Linked DNA regions of Homo sapiens: region 1 is linked to region 2. Evidence: fine-mapped expression QTL. Tissue or cell type: whole blood. Region 2 holds a variant in brackets; the other region holds the start of a gene. All regions are shown on one strand. Distances are from middle to middle.

Region 1 (8,110 bases), 32 kb after region 2:
ACTTCTGCTGCTCGCTGATGCTCACCTGCTGCTGAAACGGCCCGGTTCCTAACAGGCCACGGACCTGTATCAATACCTGGATTATGGGTTGGTGATCCTTGCTCGAGACAATAAAGTTTGAGATGACAAAAGCCCCTTATGGATGAGACTTCTTATGACAAATCCTGCCGAGAGCTAGGCACATTCAGAACAAAATAAAATCTCTCCGCTTCCCAGCGAAGAGATTTGTTAGACCAGACACCTGCTTTGACCCAAAAATCACTTCCCCTGGATGGTGGCAAGCAAGAGAGAGTGCTTCCTCTTGCTCACAAATCAAGCTCTCAAGAACACAGATCAAGACAAGAGGGAACTTTATCCTGTAACCCTCTCTATGAACAACACAGAAAGACAAAGTCAAAGGAATACACTGTTTCTGGCATGAAAGGGATAAAAAATGTGAATATTCATACCACAAAGTAGTGTAAGGTGTACCAGAGTTGCTACACCTAGACCAGTCACACAACAATCTTTTTCTCCTAGGCATGAAACCTTGTAGAGGAGACAAACAGAGGGATTTGTTTTGTACCATCTGCCCAACTGGGTTGTACAGAGAGAGAAGCTGGGGGCCTGACTGGTAAGAAATTCTTGCCCTTTTGCCACCTTGTCAGATGACTGCATTCCCTTAACTTCAGGTTCCAGAAGAGTGGAGTGGCTTTGGTGACCCTTCTTGCTATACCAAATTGTGTGAAGGTTTGCTAAGAAATCAACTCACAAAAGGCAGATTAACAAGAGAAAAAGCATACAAGGCCGGGCGCAGTGGCTCACACCTGTAATCCCAGCACTATGGGAGGCTGAGGCAGGCGGATCACGAGGTTAGGAGATCGAGACCATCCTGGCTAACACGGTGAAACCCCGTCTCCACTAAAAATACAAAAAATTAGCCCGGCGTGGTGGCGGGCGCCTGTAGTCCCAGCTACTTGGGAGGCTGAGGCAGGAGAATGGTGTGAACCTGGGAGGGGGAGGTTGCAGTGAGCAGAGATTGCACCACTCCAGCCTGGGTGACAGAGCGAGACTCCGTCTCAAAAAAAAAAAAAGCATACAAATTTATTTAACATATATACACTGCAGCCTTCGGAGCAAAGGCAGAAAGGTACAGGGTAAATTGTCTATTTATATGCTCAGGTTCAACAAAGTATGGACAGCCCTGTAGAAATATGATGGGACAAAAAGGCTAAGACCTAATGCTAATCCAGCAGGGCTTGTTTGTCTAGACTGTGCTTGGCTTCTGTGAACACAGATTTCTTCCTCCTGGGTATGGGGCAGGACCCTCTCTGTAATGGGGTCTTGTGACCTGCAGTCAAACAAGGTCAGATCATTTCTTTATGACCAGTTTTACACAAAAAAGGTGGAGGAAAAATTAGAAAAGTATTTTTAGGCTTTGTGACTATCTTTAGAAAAAAAGGCTTCTGGTTTCTAGGACCCACCTTGGGGAAGAGGGATTCTGGTCTGTACAGTTAGCTCCCTGGGAAGAATGGGGCTGACAGACAGGAGGACCCAGGACCTCAGAGAACATCTTTTACATCCGAGACTACTTCTGGGGCCTTTATTTTGGGGTATCATGCTCTGAGCCCCAACAATAGAAGTCAGCTGCATGTGCAAGTTCATCACTTACAATTTTTACTTTCCTCAAAAACACTAAGAAAACAATACAGACCAAACCTTTGCCACTGTAAAACTAGGATTGCCTTTCCTCAAGCTTCCAGTAACATCTTCCTAGTTTCGGTCTCATAACTCACCACAAGCACCTTTAACACTCATAGCTCTAGCAACATATCGGTGATCATGATATATGTATTCTCTAAGTCAGAGATCCTTTGTCTGCAGCAAATAATTCTTTTCTTAACCCTCACTTGAATTGCATTTGGTGTCCATATTTCCCCCAGCCATCTCCTAAAGGCCCTCTAGGCTTCTTGTGCCATGCATGTCAAAATGCTTCCAGTCTCTATCCATTATCTAGTTCCAAAGCTGCTTCCACTCTTTCAGGTGTTAGCTATCAGATCTGTCTGGCAACAGAATCCCTATTGGTTTGCTCTGTTAGCCTGACAATGTACCACAGACCTGGGTGGCCTAAACAGCAGACATTAATTGTTCACAGTTCTGGAGGTTGGAAGTCCAAATCAAAGCGTCAGCTGGGTTGTTTCCTTCTGAGTAATAAGAGGGAAGGATCTCTTCCAGGGATTTTTCCTCAGCTTGTAGATGGCCCACTTCTCTGTATGCTACTTCACATTTTCTTCCCTGTACACATGTCTCTTTGTCTGAATTTCCCCTTTTGATAGGCACAATGCACGCTAGCCATTTCGAGTTAGAGCCCACCCTAATGAATGTAATTTAACTTCAGTATCCCACTAAAAAACCCATCTTCAAGTAGGAGAGAGACGAGGGGTCAGGAGTCCAATAGATGTATTTGGTGTTTTTTTTTGGGGGGGGGGACACAACTGAACCCATAGGACATAGGAATCCTGAGTTGTAGGTGGGAATACCTCCTGCCTCTTCCATTATGTTAAGAGAACACTGGTAACTGATGAAGGGAAAGAAGGTGACTCCTACCCATCTTTTTTCAAGACTACTTGAATGTTGAGTAATTTTATACACACACACACGCACACACACACACATTTATATATATATATATATATATATATATATATATATATAAAATCTGGTTTATTCCATTAAATTCTCTAGGTATAATGAGAGTGAAAAAGCTAAGGAACATTGTTAGAGATATAATGTTGATCTGACTAATCCTTATAAAGGGAAACCTAGGAATATAAGAGACAGAAATGACCATGTAGTAAAGGGATTAAATGGAAAATTATTAAATGAAAATTATTACTGTCCTTGAAGCAAGTTGCGCTATAGATATATTAGAGTTGACAATGTTTAGTTCTCGGAAAAAGAATGCATGAAAAATCTTCAGGACGCCACAGGCCACCTGCCCCTCCCCTTTACTACCTCCCCCCGCAAGAGGTAATAAGAACCCATTAATCTCATGACCTCAGGTCTCAATCACACACCCCTTTGTCAAAGTTTACCCCCGTTATTTCTCAGATTCTTACATGAGCTCGGAAACTAGCGTTCCCCTGTATTTTACTTGCAGCCTCTCAACAGGTGCCTGCCTTGAGAAAATTAGCCTCTGGGGTAGAGTCGACTTTTGTCCACTGGGGGTCGCAGATCCCAGTCCTCAGGGCCTCAAGACTGTGCCGCGAAGGAAGGAAAGGAAGGGTTGGGAGCAGCCTCTTCTGAAAACCTGATACCTCCCCTCCACCGCCTCCTCTGTCGCCAGGCGGAAAATTCCCTCTCCCATCTTCTGAACACAAGCCAAAGTGCCTCCTGCACTCCCGCCCCCCGTACATTTCCTGCGGGAAACCGTCGGCCTACCAGCTCTGCAATCAGCCGCACAGAATTCAAATTCGGATTCGGCTTTGATGACCTGCCGGAGAGAAAGGGACTAGAAGTTGGATGACCTCCCACCCCCATATTCCTTCCCAGGAAGAGATGAGGAGATGCAAAAGGGGTTCAAGACAGCTTGCGATCGTCTTCTCCCGCCCCTTGCCACCTCCCCGAACACCCGCCCCCGACGCCCGACAACACCCCCGCCCACTTCAATCCAGGCAAATCATAAATCCTACCCAGTCGGCAGCATCCAGATGAGCCACAACTCCTTTCTCAGCGCAACCAGGCCATGGGAGTGCTCCATCCCCTGCCTCGCAGTTACTGATTCTCCAAGCCGGGCGCCGCCCAGTCCTGGTGGGGCTTCCCCCACCCCTCTCCGCGCCGGGAAATCGCGCGCTCTTTCTTTACCTGCGCTCCACTGGTGGGCAGCGTATGCTCCCGCGTCGACAGCTCTGTTTCGCCTTCCGGTCCCCATAGCTCTGCAGGGGAACAGGATCGCTGGCGCCTCCTGGGCCGCTAAGCGACCCCGGGGCTGCCCGGCTTAGCGAGTGCTTCGCAGAGAGGTAGCCGAGTCGAGGCAGCGCGGTTCCCAAGGAAGTCACGGCTGCGGCCACCCTCCAGTTCGGACCTCCGGGCAGCCGCGGTTGCTTTCAGTCTCTGCCCATTGAGACAAAAGAGCGTGACAAGCCGCGCGACGCGGCCAATCAGCGGGGCGAGGAGGCGGCCTACCCAAGCAGCCTCTGGCCCTGAAGCTACTGCTAGCAAGACTCGGGAGCTGGCTGGCGGGGGCTGAGGCCGACAGGCACGGGAGCCGGCGCGGCGTCAAGTGGAGCTCGGACGCACGGACCAGGCCCATTTCCCTTTCATCTGTGAGTTTGCTGCTACCCCGTCGCTTCCCTTCTCCCCATCCCCTTCCGCCTCGGCTCTGCTCCGGGCTTTGAGACCGGATGCCTGAAACACGAGGTGGGACAGAAACCAAGTGAACAATGAGAGTTCCTTACCTTTGTATAGGGGGAAGGGGGGAAACAGCATTTACTGAGTGCTTTCTGTGTGCGGATGCGCCTGTCTCCTTTCTTCTCAGCAGCCCTGTGAAGGAGGTAGCAGTGTGCCCACTTAACAGGAAAGGACTGAAACACCCAGGCGGTACAGTTAGGAAGTGCAGAGCTAAGAGCTCACTCCCAAGTCAACATATCTGACTTCAAAGGCTACCCCTTGCCAACACTCCTCTATTCTGTTAGATTAAGGGATAGCGGAGAAAAACCAAAGCCAGGATGGGAGGACCAACTTGGGACTGCATAGAATTAGTGAGCAAGAACTGTTATCTCCATTTCACAGATGAAGAAACTGAGCCAAAGACAGAGAGGTTAAGCGTCTTGCACTGTATCCCGCAGCAAAGAAGTTACAGCATCCAACTTAGCACCTGTATGTTGCTCTCTAGATGCTAATTGTTTGCCCTGCAGCATTGTCTGAAGAGCACTTTTGCACAGGTAGTCTCAAACCATCTCAACAGCAGTCTCAATGTGATGATAGTGCTGAGGGAGGGGGTGAGGAGGTAGTAGGGAGAGGGCTGAGGGAAGATGAAGGCAACCTTTATGGTGCCCATTGTACAGAAGAGGAAACTCTTCTTGGCACTCTTCTTTCCTTCGTTTTTTTAAAAATACTTTTTTTTATACTACAAAAAGCTGCCCTTTTTATAAAAGCAACATAATTTCGACAGCCCTTTGTGACGCCAAGGGAGGCAAGGCTCAGAGAGGTAAAATGATTTGTCTGAAATTACAAGGTGAAGCCAAAATTTGGACCGAATCTCTGAATCCAGAACTCATACTATTAACTAAAGTGAGTAAAAAGTGGGCTGCCTCAGAATCATTTTGGAGAGCTTGTTATAAATGCAGATTCCTGGGCCTTACCCCTGGGGGATTTTGATGTACTAGGACTACAGGTAAAGAGTGTGATTTGTAGTTTTAAACAGCCCCATAGTTGATTCTGAGGTGTAGAGAGATTCGTGAACCACTGTTCTAAACACCACCACGTGATGCTGAAGGTTATAAGTAAATGGGCCTGTCATCAGTGTATTTGTCCATGGCATATCTGTTATGAAATGTAACTCCAGAGCACAGGTTCCTACCCGCGGTCCTTCCTGGAACTGTATGCAAAGAATCTGGACTCCGTACATTCTTCTGAGTCCACAGCTTTGCAGATTTTCAAATGGGTCTGTCATAATGTCTTCCTTCTTCAAGCCATGCTTGATGAAGAAGTGTGAGAAATCAAACCCCATTTAACCTAACCCCCAAACCACAGCTCTCTGTTGCTGATATGGCTCTTTCATTTCCTGGCTCAAGGACAGGTTGCTAGGTTGCCCTTCTGTGAGCTCTTCAGGGGACTTCTCCTTTGCTGGATTTGGCATCACTGGCCCCAGAGAAGGAGCAACTCCATGGAAACAGCATGCAGGGCTGTCCAAAGTGAATGGCCATGAAGGCAGTGGCTGGAAAACCTGCTCCATTTTTCCCTGACTTAGAGAGCAGGTATTACTTCCTTTATGTATAGTGTGGCTAGGAGGCTCCTGTGGGGCCTGTTCTTGACTCCTGATGCTTGGAAGCAAGTGAACAGTCTGAAGCCCTTCCACTGCCGTTGGCTTCATCTTCAGCCTGCCAAGGCACTTCACTCACTCATTTCCACCCTCTTATTTACAACCCCAAGATGTAGAGTTCCTTGGAGTAAACAATACAGATTTGGAGATGAAGCACTTTCCATCTCAGGATTGTGGCCTGTGGATGGAACAGTGGGGTAGTGGTGGTGGAAGGTGGAAAGTGTGGATGTATGGAGAAGGCAGGTTGCTCACCTCGCACACTTAGGGGTGATGGTGGCAGTAGCTCTTAGGTTTCCTTCAGACTTTTGCTTCTGCTCCCCTGTCCCGTGACATCTGACTCTTGCCTCCCAGAAGACTCTTGTTCAGTGTTTAAATTGGCTTTATCACCAAATTAGGTATTTGCAGCTGGACTTGGTAGGGATGGAATCACATAAGACCAAGAATAGGTGTCAGAGCTCGGACAAAAATAATGACAGGAAATGGATTGTGTAAAGGTGCCAGAGTTGGACTACTGGAACAAAGCGAGAGACATTTTGTGCAGGGATGGGGGGAGTATTTGCAACCTGGCTCCAATTGGATACAGGACATCCTATCTCTGGCCTCATGTGTGTGAGTCTGTTCCAACTGATGGCTCTAATGAGACCACATTTTGTAATTTTAACACATAAACCTTAGAAGCTTGAAGGTTTAGAGATAAAGCTTTCAGCTGAAACAATAATAGCTGCCTTTGGCTGCCTTCCTCCTTTGTACCAGGAACTTTCTATCTGTTATCTCATTTAAGCTTCCCAGCAACACTGTTGAGACAGCCATTGTATCCCATTTTGCAGAGAGGGAAACTGAATTTCAGGGATGTTAAGTAACTTGTGTAAGGCTTCACAACTTTTAAGTGCAGGCACTGGGATTGCAGGCCAGGGATGTCAAACTCCAAAGCCCATGAAAACTCTTCTTTGCTGCCTTCCAAACAAGCAGTCTAAAAGGCATTCTGCAGATAACCCAGTTCATTAGACCGATTGCAGCTTTTAGAACAATTTAGTTGTTATCTTGCCTTTATTCCTATTATCTCTCTCTCTCTCTCTTTTTTTTTTTTTTGAGACGGAGTCTCCCACTGTCACCCAGGCTGGGGTGCAGTGGTGCGATCTCAGCTCACTGCAAGCTCTGCCCTATTATCTCATTTTTATTTAATTTATTTATTTATTTATTTTTTATTAGTGCTATACTTTAAGTTCTAGGGTACATATGCACAACGTGCAGGTTTGTTACATATGTATACATGTACCATGTTGGTGTGCTGCACCCATTAACTCGTCATTTACATTAGGTATATCTCCTAATGCTAACCCTCCCCCCTCCCCCACCCCACGACAGGCCCCAGTGTGTGATGTTCCCCATCCTGTGTCCAAGTGTTCTCATTGTTCAATTCCCACCTATGAGTGAGAACATGCAGTGTTTTGTTTTCTGTCCTTGCGACAGTTTGCTCAGAATGATGGTTTCCAGCTTCATCCATGTCCCTACAAAGGACATGAACTCGTCCTTTTTTATGGCTTCATACTATTCCATGGTGTATATGTGCCACATTTTCTTAATCCAGTCTATTATTGACGGACATTTGGGTTGGTTCCAAGTCTTTGCTATCGTGAATAGTGCTGCAATAAACATGCATGTGCATGTGTCTTTATAGCAGCATGATTTATAATCCTTTGGGTATATACCCAGTAATGGGATGGCTGGGTCAAATGGTATTTCTAGTTCTAGATCCCTGAGGAATCGCCACACTGTCTTCCACAATGGTTGAACTAGTTCACAGTCCCACCAACAGTGTAAAAGTGTTCCTGTTTCTCCACATCCTCTCCAGCACCTGTTGTTTCCTGACTTGTTAATGATCACCATTCTAACTGGTGTGAGATGCTATCTCATTGTGGTTTTGATTTGCATTTTTCTGATGGCCAGTGATGATGAGCATTTTTTCATGTGTCTGTTGGCTGCATAAATGTCTTCTTTTGAGAAGTGTCCATATCCTTCACCCACTTTTTGATGGGGTTGTTTGATTTTTTCTTGTACATTTGTTTAGGTTCTTTGTAGATTCTGGAT
Region 2 (8,110 bases):
TATCACCCTTGCTCCTATACACCATTTCCCCCTGCTCTCTATAGCAGCACTGTCCAATAGAAATTTCTGATAATGAAATGTTCTATATTGGCACTGTCCAATACAGTAGCTAGCAGCCACAGGTGGCTATTTTAATTTAATTTTTTGAAATTAAAAAGTCACTTTCTCAGTTGCACTAGGCACATGTCAAGTGCTCAAGAGCCACACATGACTAGTGTCTACCATATTGGACAGCACAGCCTAATAGTTTATTGTTTATCTTTCCAGAGTTTCCGTATACAAATAAAAGCAAATTAATATTGGTTTTTATTTCAGATTCCATCCACTTTCCCATAATAGAAATCAAATTTACCAATCTTTGGTTTGCGAGATTCTTTCAGAAACAAGTCTTATGAATGTAAGACACCAGGCAATCTGACAATATGTTAGCACAGTGGCCATAAATTGACAGTAAGACATACATTTTGGCCAAAAGTTCTGCCTTAAAGCTCTGTGATTTTGAGCAAGTTACTTAATTTTTCTGGGTCTATTTCCTCATCTGTAAAATGGAAATAATGTTACCTATCTCATGGGTATTGTGAGGACTAAGTGAGGACGTAGATGTATAATTTAGAATGGTGCCTACCTTGTACATAGTGATAAATACAGGCCTATCTCATTTTATTGCACTTCACTCTATTGCACTTGGCAGATACTGTGTTTTTTATGAATTAAAGACTTGGAGCAATTCTGCATCAGACAAGTCTATCAGCGACATTTTTCCAACAGCATGTTCTCATTTTGTGTCTCTGTGTCACCTTTTGATAATTCTTGCAGTATTTCTAACTTTTTCACTATTATTATATCTGTTGCAGTGATCAGTGATCTTTGATGTTACCGTTGTAATTCTTTTGGGGTACCATGAACTGTGCCCATATAAGATGGCAGGCTAACTCAGGCCTCCCTATTCCCTGAGACACAACAATATTGAAATTAGGCTAATTAATAACCCTACGGTGGCCTCTAAGAGTTCAAGTGAAAGGAATAGTCACATGTCTCTCACTTTAAATCAAAAGCTAGAAATGATTAAGCTTAGTGAGGAAGGAAAGTTGAAAGCTAACATAGGCTAAAAGCTAGGCCTCTTGTACCAGACAGTCAGCCAAGTTGTGAACACAAGGGAAAAGTTTGTGGAGGAAATTGAAAGTGTTACTCCAGTGAACACGTGAATGATAAGAAAGCAAAACAGACTTACTGCCCATATGGAAAAAGTTTGAGTTGTCTCCATAGAAATTCAAACAAGCTACAACATTCCCTTAAGCCAAAGCCTAACCCAGAGCAGGGCCCTAATTCTCTTCAATTCTGCAGAGGTTGAGAGAGATAAGGAAGCTGCAGAAGAAAAGTTGGAAGCCAGCAGAGGCTGGTTCATGAGGTTCAAGGAAAGAAGCTATCTTCATAACATAAAAGTGCAAGGTGAAGTGGCAAGTGCTGATGTAAAAGTTGCAAAAAGTTATCTAGAAAATCTAGCTAAGATAATCGATGAAAGTGGCTACACAAAACAACAAATTTTCAATGCAGACAAAACAGCCTTATATTGGAATAAGACGCCATCTAGGACTTTCACAGATAGAGAGAAGTCAATGCCTGGCTTCAATGACTTAAAGGACAGGCTGACTTTCTTGTTAGAGGCTAATGCAGCTGGTGATTTTAATTCGAAGCCAATTCTTATTGACCATTCCGAAAATCCTTGGGCCCTTAAGAATTATGCCAAATCTATGCTGCCTGTGCTCTAGAAATGAAACAACAAAGCCTGGATGATAACACATTTGTTTACAGCATAATTTACTGAATATTTTAAGCCCACTACTGAGACCTACTGCTCAGAAAAAAAGATTCCTTTCAAAATATTATGGCTCATTGACAATGTACCTAGTCACCCAAGAGCCCTGATGAAGATATACAAGGAGGTTAATGTTGTTTTCATGCCTGCTAACACAGCATTCATTCTGTAGCCCATAGATCACGGTGTAACTTTGACTTTCAAGTCTTACTATTTAAGAAATACATTTCATAAGGCTATAGCTGCTGTAGATATTGATTCCTCTCATGGATCTGAGCAAAGAAAATTGAAAACCTCTGGAAAGGATTCACCATTCTAGATGCCATTAAGAACTTTCATGGTTTATGGGAGGAGGTCAAAATATCAACATTTACAGGAGTTTGGAAGAAGTTGATTCGAACTCTCATGGATAACTTTGAGGGGTTCAAGACTTCAGTGGAGAAAGTCACTGCAGATGTGGTGGAAATAGCAAGAGAACTAGAATTAGAAGTGTAGCCTGAAGATGTGGCAGAATTGCTGCAATCTCTTGATAAATCTTGAATGGATGAGGAGTTGTTTCTTTTTTAAAAATTATTATTATACATTAAGTTCTAGGGTACATCTGCACAACATGCAGGTTTGTTACATAGGCATACATGTGCCATGTTGGTTTGCTGCACCCATCAACTCATCATTTACATTAGGTATTTCTCCTAATGCTATCCCTCCCCCAGCTCCCCATCACCTGACTGGCCCCAGTGTGTGATGATCCCTTCCCTGTGTCCATGTGTTATCATTGTGCAACTCCCACCTATGAGTGAGAACATGCGGTGTTTGGTTTTCTGTCCTTGTGATAGTTTGCTGAGAATGAGAGTTTCCAACTTCGTCCATTAACCTGCAAAGGACATGAACTCATCCATTTTTATGGCTGCATAGTATTCAATGGTGTATATGTGCCACATTTTCTTAATCCAATCTATCACTGATGGACATTTGGGTTGGTTCCAAGTCTTTGCTATTGTGAATAGTGCCACAATAAACATATGTGTGCATGTGTCTTTATCATAGAATGATTTACAATCCTTTGGGTATATGCCCAGTAATGGGATTGCTGGGTTAAATGGTATTTCTAGTTCTAGATCCTTGCCACACTGTCTTCCACAATGGTTGAACTAATTTTCACTCCCACCAACAGTGTAAAAGCATTCCTATTTCTCCACATCCTCTCCAGCATCTGTTGCTTCCTGACTTTTTAATGATCTCCATTCTAACTGGCATGAGATGGTAACTCATTGTTTTTGATTTGCATTTCTCTGATGACCAGTGATGATGAGCATTTTTTCATATGTCTGTTGGCTGCATAAATGTCTTCTTTTGAGAAGTGTCTGTTCATATCCTTTGCCCACTTTTTGATGGGGTTGTTTTTTCTTGTAAATTTGTTTAAGGTCTTTGTAGATTCTGGATATTAGCCCTTTGTCAGGTGGGTAGATTGCAAAAATTTTCTCCCATTCTGTAGGTTGCCTGTTCACTCCGATGATAGTTTATTTTGCTGTGCAGAAGCTCTTTAGTTTAATTAGATCCCATTTGTCAATTTTGGCTTTTGTTGCCATTGCCTTTGGTGTTTTAGTCATGAAGTCTTTGCCCATGCCTATGTCCTGAATGGTATTGCCTAGGTTTTCTTCTAGGGTTTTTATGGTGTTAGGTCTTACATTTAAATCTTTAATCCGTCTTGAGTTAAATTTTGTATACAGTGTAATGAAGGGATCCAGTTTCAGCTTTCTACATATGGCTAGCCAGTTTTCCGAGCACCATTTATTAAATAGGGAATCTTTTCCCCATTTCTTGTTTTTGTCACATTTGTGAAAGATCAGATAGTTGTAGATATGTGGCATTATTTCTGAGGGCTCTGTTTGGTTCCTTTGGTTTATATATCTGTTTTGGTACCAGTACCATGCTGTTTTGGTTACTGTAACCTTGCAGTATAGTTTGAAGTCAGGTAGCGTGATGCCTCCAGCTTTGTTCTTTTTGCTTAGGAGTGTCTTGGCTATGCGGGCTCCTTTTTGGTTCCATATGAACTTTAAAGTAGTTTTTTCCAATTCTGTGAAGAAAGTCACTGGTAGCTTGATGGGGATAGCATTGAATCTATAAATTACTTTGGGCAGTAAGGCTATTTTCACAATATTGGTTCTTCCTATCCATGAGCATGGGGGAGTGGTTTCTTATGGATGAGCAAAGTAGCTTCTTGAGATGGCATCTACTCTTGGTGAAGGTGCTGTGAATAGTGTTGAAATGACAACAAAGGATTTAGAATATTACATAAATTTAGTTGATAAAACAGTGTCAGGGTTTGAAAGCACTGACTCCAATTTTGAAAGAAGTTCTACTGTAGGTAAATGCTATTAAACAGCATCACATGCCACAGAGAAATCTTTCATGAAAGGAAGAGTCAATTGATGTGGCCAACTTCATTGCTGTTTTATTTTAAGAAATTGCCACAGCCACCCCAACCATCAGCAACTGCCATCCTTATCAGTCAGCAACCATCAACATCAAAGGAAGACCCTCCTCCACCAGTAAGATTACAACTCATTAAAGGCTCAGATGATCATTAGCATTTTTTAGCAGCAAAGTATTTTTAAATTAAGTTACATATGTTTTTTAGAATAATGCTATTGTATACTTAAGAGACTACAGTATAGTGTAAATATAACTTTTATATATACTAGGAAACCAAAAAATTTGTGTTACTGACTTTATTGTGATAATTTACTTCATTGCAGTCGTCTGGAACTGAACCCAC[A/T]ATATGTTCAAGGTATGTGTGTATTTGAAGGTTGATGAGGCTAGATTTGTTGGAGTATGTGTTGGGGGATAGGGATGGGTTGGGGAATAAAAGCCAAACTTCAATCATTTGAGGAGTGAGTGGGTGATGAGAAATGGACATATAAACAGAGTACTCTTTCAAAGAAGTTTGAATTAAAAACAGAAAATGGATACTGGTCAGTGAGTAGCAAAAGTGAGGTGTGGTATCACAGGAGAGTTTTTTAAGACTGGATATCTAAGAATGTTTCAGAGGTATCCAATAATAGTGGTAGAATCTCAACTAATGATATTGTTGTTATATTACTCTCATCATCACTATACCTCTACCATACTAATTTCCATAAAATACACATTTTATCTCCCCACTTCACTGGATAAACTCTAAATTCCTCTGCTTGGGATGTAGGGTCTTCCATAAAGGTAGCATACCATCTAGCTTTATCATTTATATGCTTCATAACATTGGGCAGCTTGCTTAATTTCTCTGAGACCTAATTTCCTCATCTGTAAATTGAAATGGCCCACACTTAACCTTAGCAGGATACAGAAAGATAACTTGGGGCTTCTTTCTAACCTCACTCCTGATAGTCCTTGAAGAAGACCCAGCTTCCATGAGACTTGTTTTTAATTCCTACTGCAGAGAGGTGCTGGAGTTTGCTAGTTCTCTGTGTATGCTGAGCAATTAAATGCTGCCTCTTAATCAAATGCTGATTGCATATTTATTTCATTTTGGTGTTGGAAATCCAAAGCAACATCAATGGGTTACATTTCATGAGAACTTGCTAAATTTTGTGAGATGTGTAGACATTTATTTTTTATTTTTATTCTTTTCTTGAGACAGGGTCTCATTCTGTCTGCCAGGCTGGAATGCAGTGGCACAATCATGGCTTACTGCAGCCTCAAACTCCTGGGCTCCAGCAATCCTCCTGTCTAGTTTCCTGAGTAGCTGTGACTACAAGTGTGCACTACCACATCTGGCTACTTTTTCAATTTTTTTGTAGAGACAGTGCCTTGCTATGTTGCCCAGGATGATCTTGAACTCCTGGGCTCAAGCGATCCTCTCACCTTGACCTCCCAAAGTGCTGGGATTATAGGGGTCAGCCACCGTGTTCAGACTACACGTTTATTTTTAATCTAACAAACACATAATGCTTACACTAGGATTGTTTCCAAGGAACACTTAATATATACTAGAATGTTTCTAAGCACTCCAAAGGTATTAACTCATACAACCCTCATAATAATCCCACTTACAGGTGGGAAAATTAAGGCACATAAAGGTTAAGTAAGTTGCTCAACATCACTTAGCTGGTAAGTGGTAGAGCTTGGATTTGAAACCAGGGCATCTAGCTTTAGATTTTGTGCACCCCATCACTACACTATAATGCACCTCACTTAAGCTTAACAACAACCCAGTGAAGCAGGTACTGTTATTATTCTTATTTTACCCTGAGACTCAGAGAAATTAGGTTACTTGCCTAAAGTCACATGGCTAGTAAGTGGTGGGTGAGGTTTGAACCAGGTTTGTCTGATTCCTAGGCATTTTGACAACATGTTAACTAGTCATTCCACTAACAGTTTGATCCTTTTTTGCCATATGTGCATATCACCCATACAATTATTTATTTAAGAAAGCTATTTTAATTAACTGATTTTAAATAACTTTTTTGTATTTTGTAAGCAATAATATCTATGGTTTCACAGATAACATGTTATTGACATATTTTTAATTAAACGGCATAAACTGTTTTTAAAAATCTGTGTACCTCCGTGGACATAGAGCGTGGAATAATAAACATTGGAGACTTGGAAAGGTGGGAGGAGGGTGAAGGATCAGAAATTGCTTAATGGGTACAATGTACACTATTTGGGTGATGGTTACACTGAAGGCCTGGACTTCACCACTGTGCAATATATCCATGTAACAAAACTGCACCTGTACCTCTTATATTTATACAAATAAAAAATTCCTTACAAGTCTGTGTACCACTTAAAACTATCTCATGTACCTGAAGAGGCATGTACACCACATTTTGGGTATTGCATCATATTACACTTTTAACCCATAGCCCACTCTTCATCTCCAAAGTTCTGTTCAAACCCCTTTTCCCAAAAATCACATGGGCTATTAGTTTCTCTTCTGGAGTCAAGGAAAGAAAATATCTTTAGTGGAGTACCTAGACTGGTCAAAACCCAGTGATTAGGATAATACGTGCATTCCAATGGATGCTGGTAATATTTTGCGGTTGGAGGTGGGGGAGCAGTGCAGGAGAATCATTCATCATACAAACAGAGCCAATAAAAACATTATTCAAATATTTACAAATGTTTCACTTGTACTGCAACATGCTGCCGTCCTAGAAGGGAGCAAAACAGGCTTGGTCCACTCTACTTATTCAAATTATCTGCTTGGCTTTGTAGATCTTTTCAGGACATATCTGTACTGCCACGTTCATTGTGGCTTTATTCACAATGGCAAACTCAGTGCTCATAGATGTATGAATTGATAAAAAGTTGTGACATCTATATCTGTATATAGACATAGACATATACACACACATTAAGATATTATTTGACCTTAGAAAAGAAGGGTATAATGCCATTATGACAATATGGATGAACCTGGAGGATAAACCTCCAGGTTTATTAAGTGAAATAAGCCAATAACAGAAAGAAAAATGCTGTATCTCACTTATACGTAAGATCTAAGAAAAAAAGTCAAACACACAGAAATAGAGTAGAAGGGTGGTTAGCAGGTGTGGAGGGGGGGTGGCAGGAAATGGGGAGATGTAAATTAAAGAATGCAAATTTGTAGTTTTGCAGGATAAATAAATTTAGAGATTTCTACAAGAGTAGAGCTGTAGTTAATAATATTGTATTGTATGTTAAAAATTTGCTAAGAGAATAGATTTTATGTGCTCTCATCACACACACACACACACGGACAAACACAAAGGTAATAAACTAATAACAGACTAAACTGTGAGACTTCCAGAGCTTACTCGAACCAACCAATCAGAACTCACACACACAAAGGTAAGAGACTAATAACAGAACAAACTGTGAAACTTCCAGAGCTCACTTGAACCAACCAATCAGAGCTCACGGGCCTCAACCAACCAAGGCTCAACTGTCTCGACTAATCAGGGCTCAGTTCTATCATCCATCAAAACTAAATGAGTCAGAATCCTTCATTTTGCACAAACCTACCTGAAAGGGAACCTGGGAAGGAAATTTTGCTATAAAACTTGAATTCTTCCTTTCTTCTTTGGAACACATCTTTATTTTACATCAAAGGCTGTGTCTCTGTGGTTTGCCAACTATAAAATGGAACCTAGTTGCTCTCTTACAAATTGCTTTACAGATAACTTTTTTTTTTCAAAATGTCATTTACAGGTTCCTACATTATTATAAAAGGGTTATTTAATTTTATTTTTAAACAGTGAGTGGAATATTTAAGAAAACTGATGAAATATTGGGCATTGAAGCAAATCA

The links. PIP is the estimated chance that this variant, and not a neighbour inherited with it, causes the effect.
Region 1: it holds the start of TMSB15B-AS1, and the variant in region 2 is fine-mapped to the expression of TMSB15B-AS1 in whole blood (TOPMed, PIP 0.96).

The regions. Positions count from the first base shown.
Region 1 is chrX:103,914,989-103,923,098 of GRCh38, forward strand. It overlaps TMSB15B-AS1 (TMSB15B antisense RNA 1), which reads right to left and starts at 4,560. Exons shown (of 5, transcript NR_146557.1): 1 at 4,437-4,560; 2 at 3,844-4,092; 3 at 3,421-3,472; 4 at 3,099-3,237. It also overlaps a transcript of TMSB15B not described here. RefSeq lists an enhancer at 4,486-4,575.
Region 2 is chrX:103,882,547-103,890,656 of GRCh38, forward strand. All of the region lies in intron 4 of TMSB15B-AS1 (TMSB15B antisense RNA 1), which reads right to left. Among named protein-coding and RNA genes, the nearest start is that of TMSB15B-AS1, 33 kb to the right of the region's middle. The variant A/T (reference allele first, on the strand shown) is at 4,596.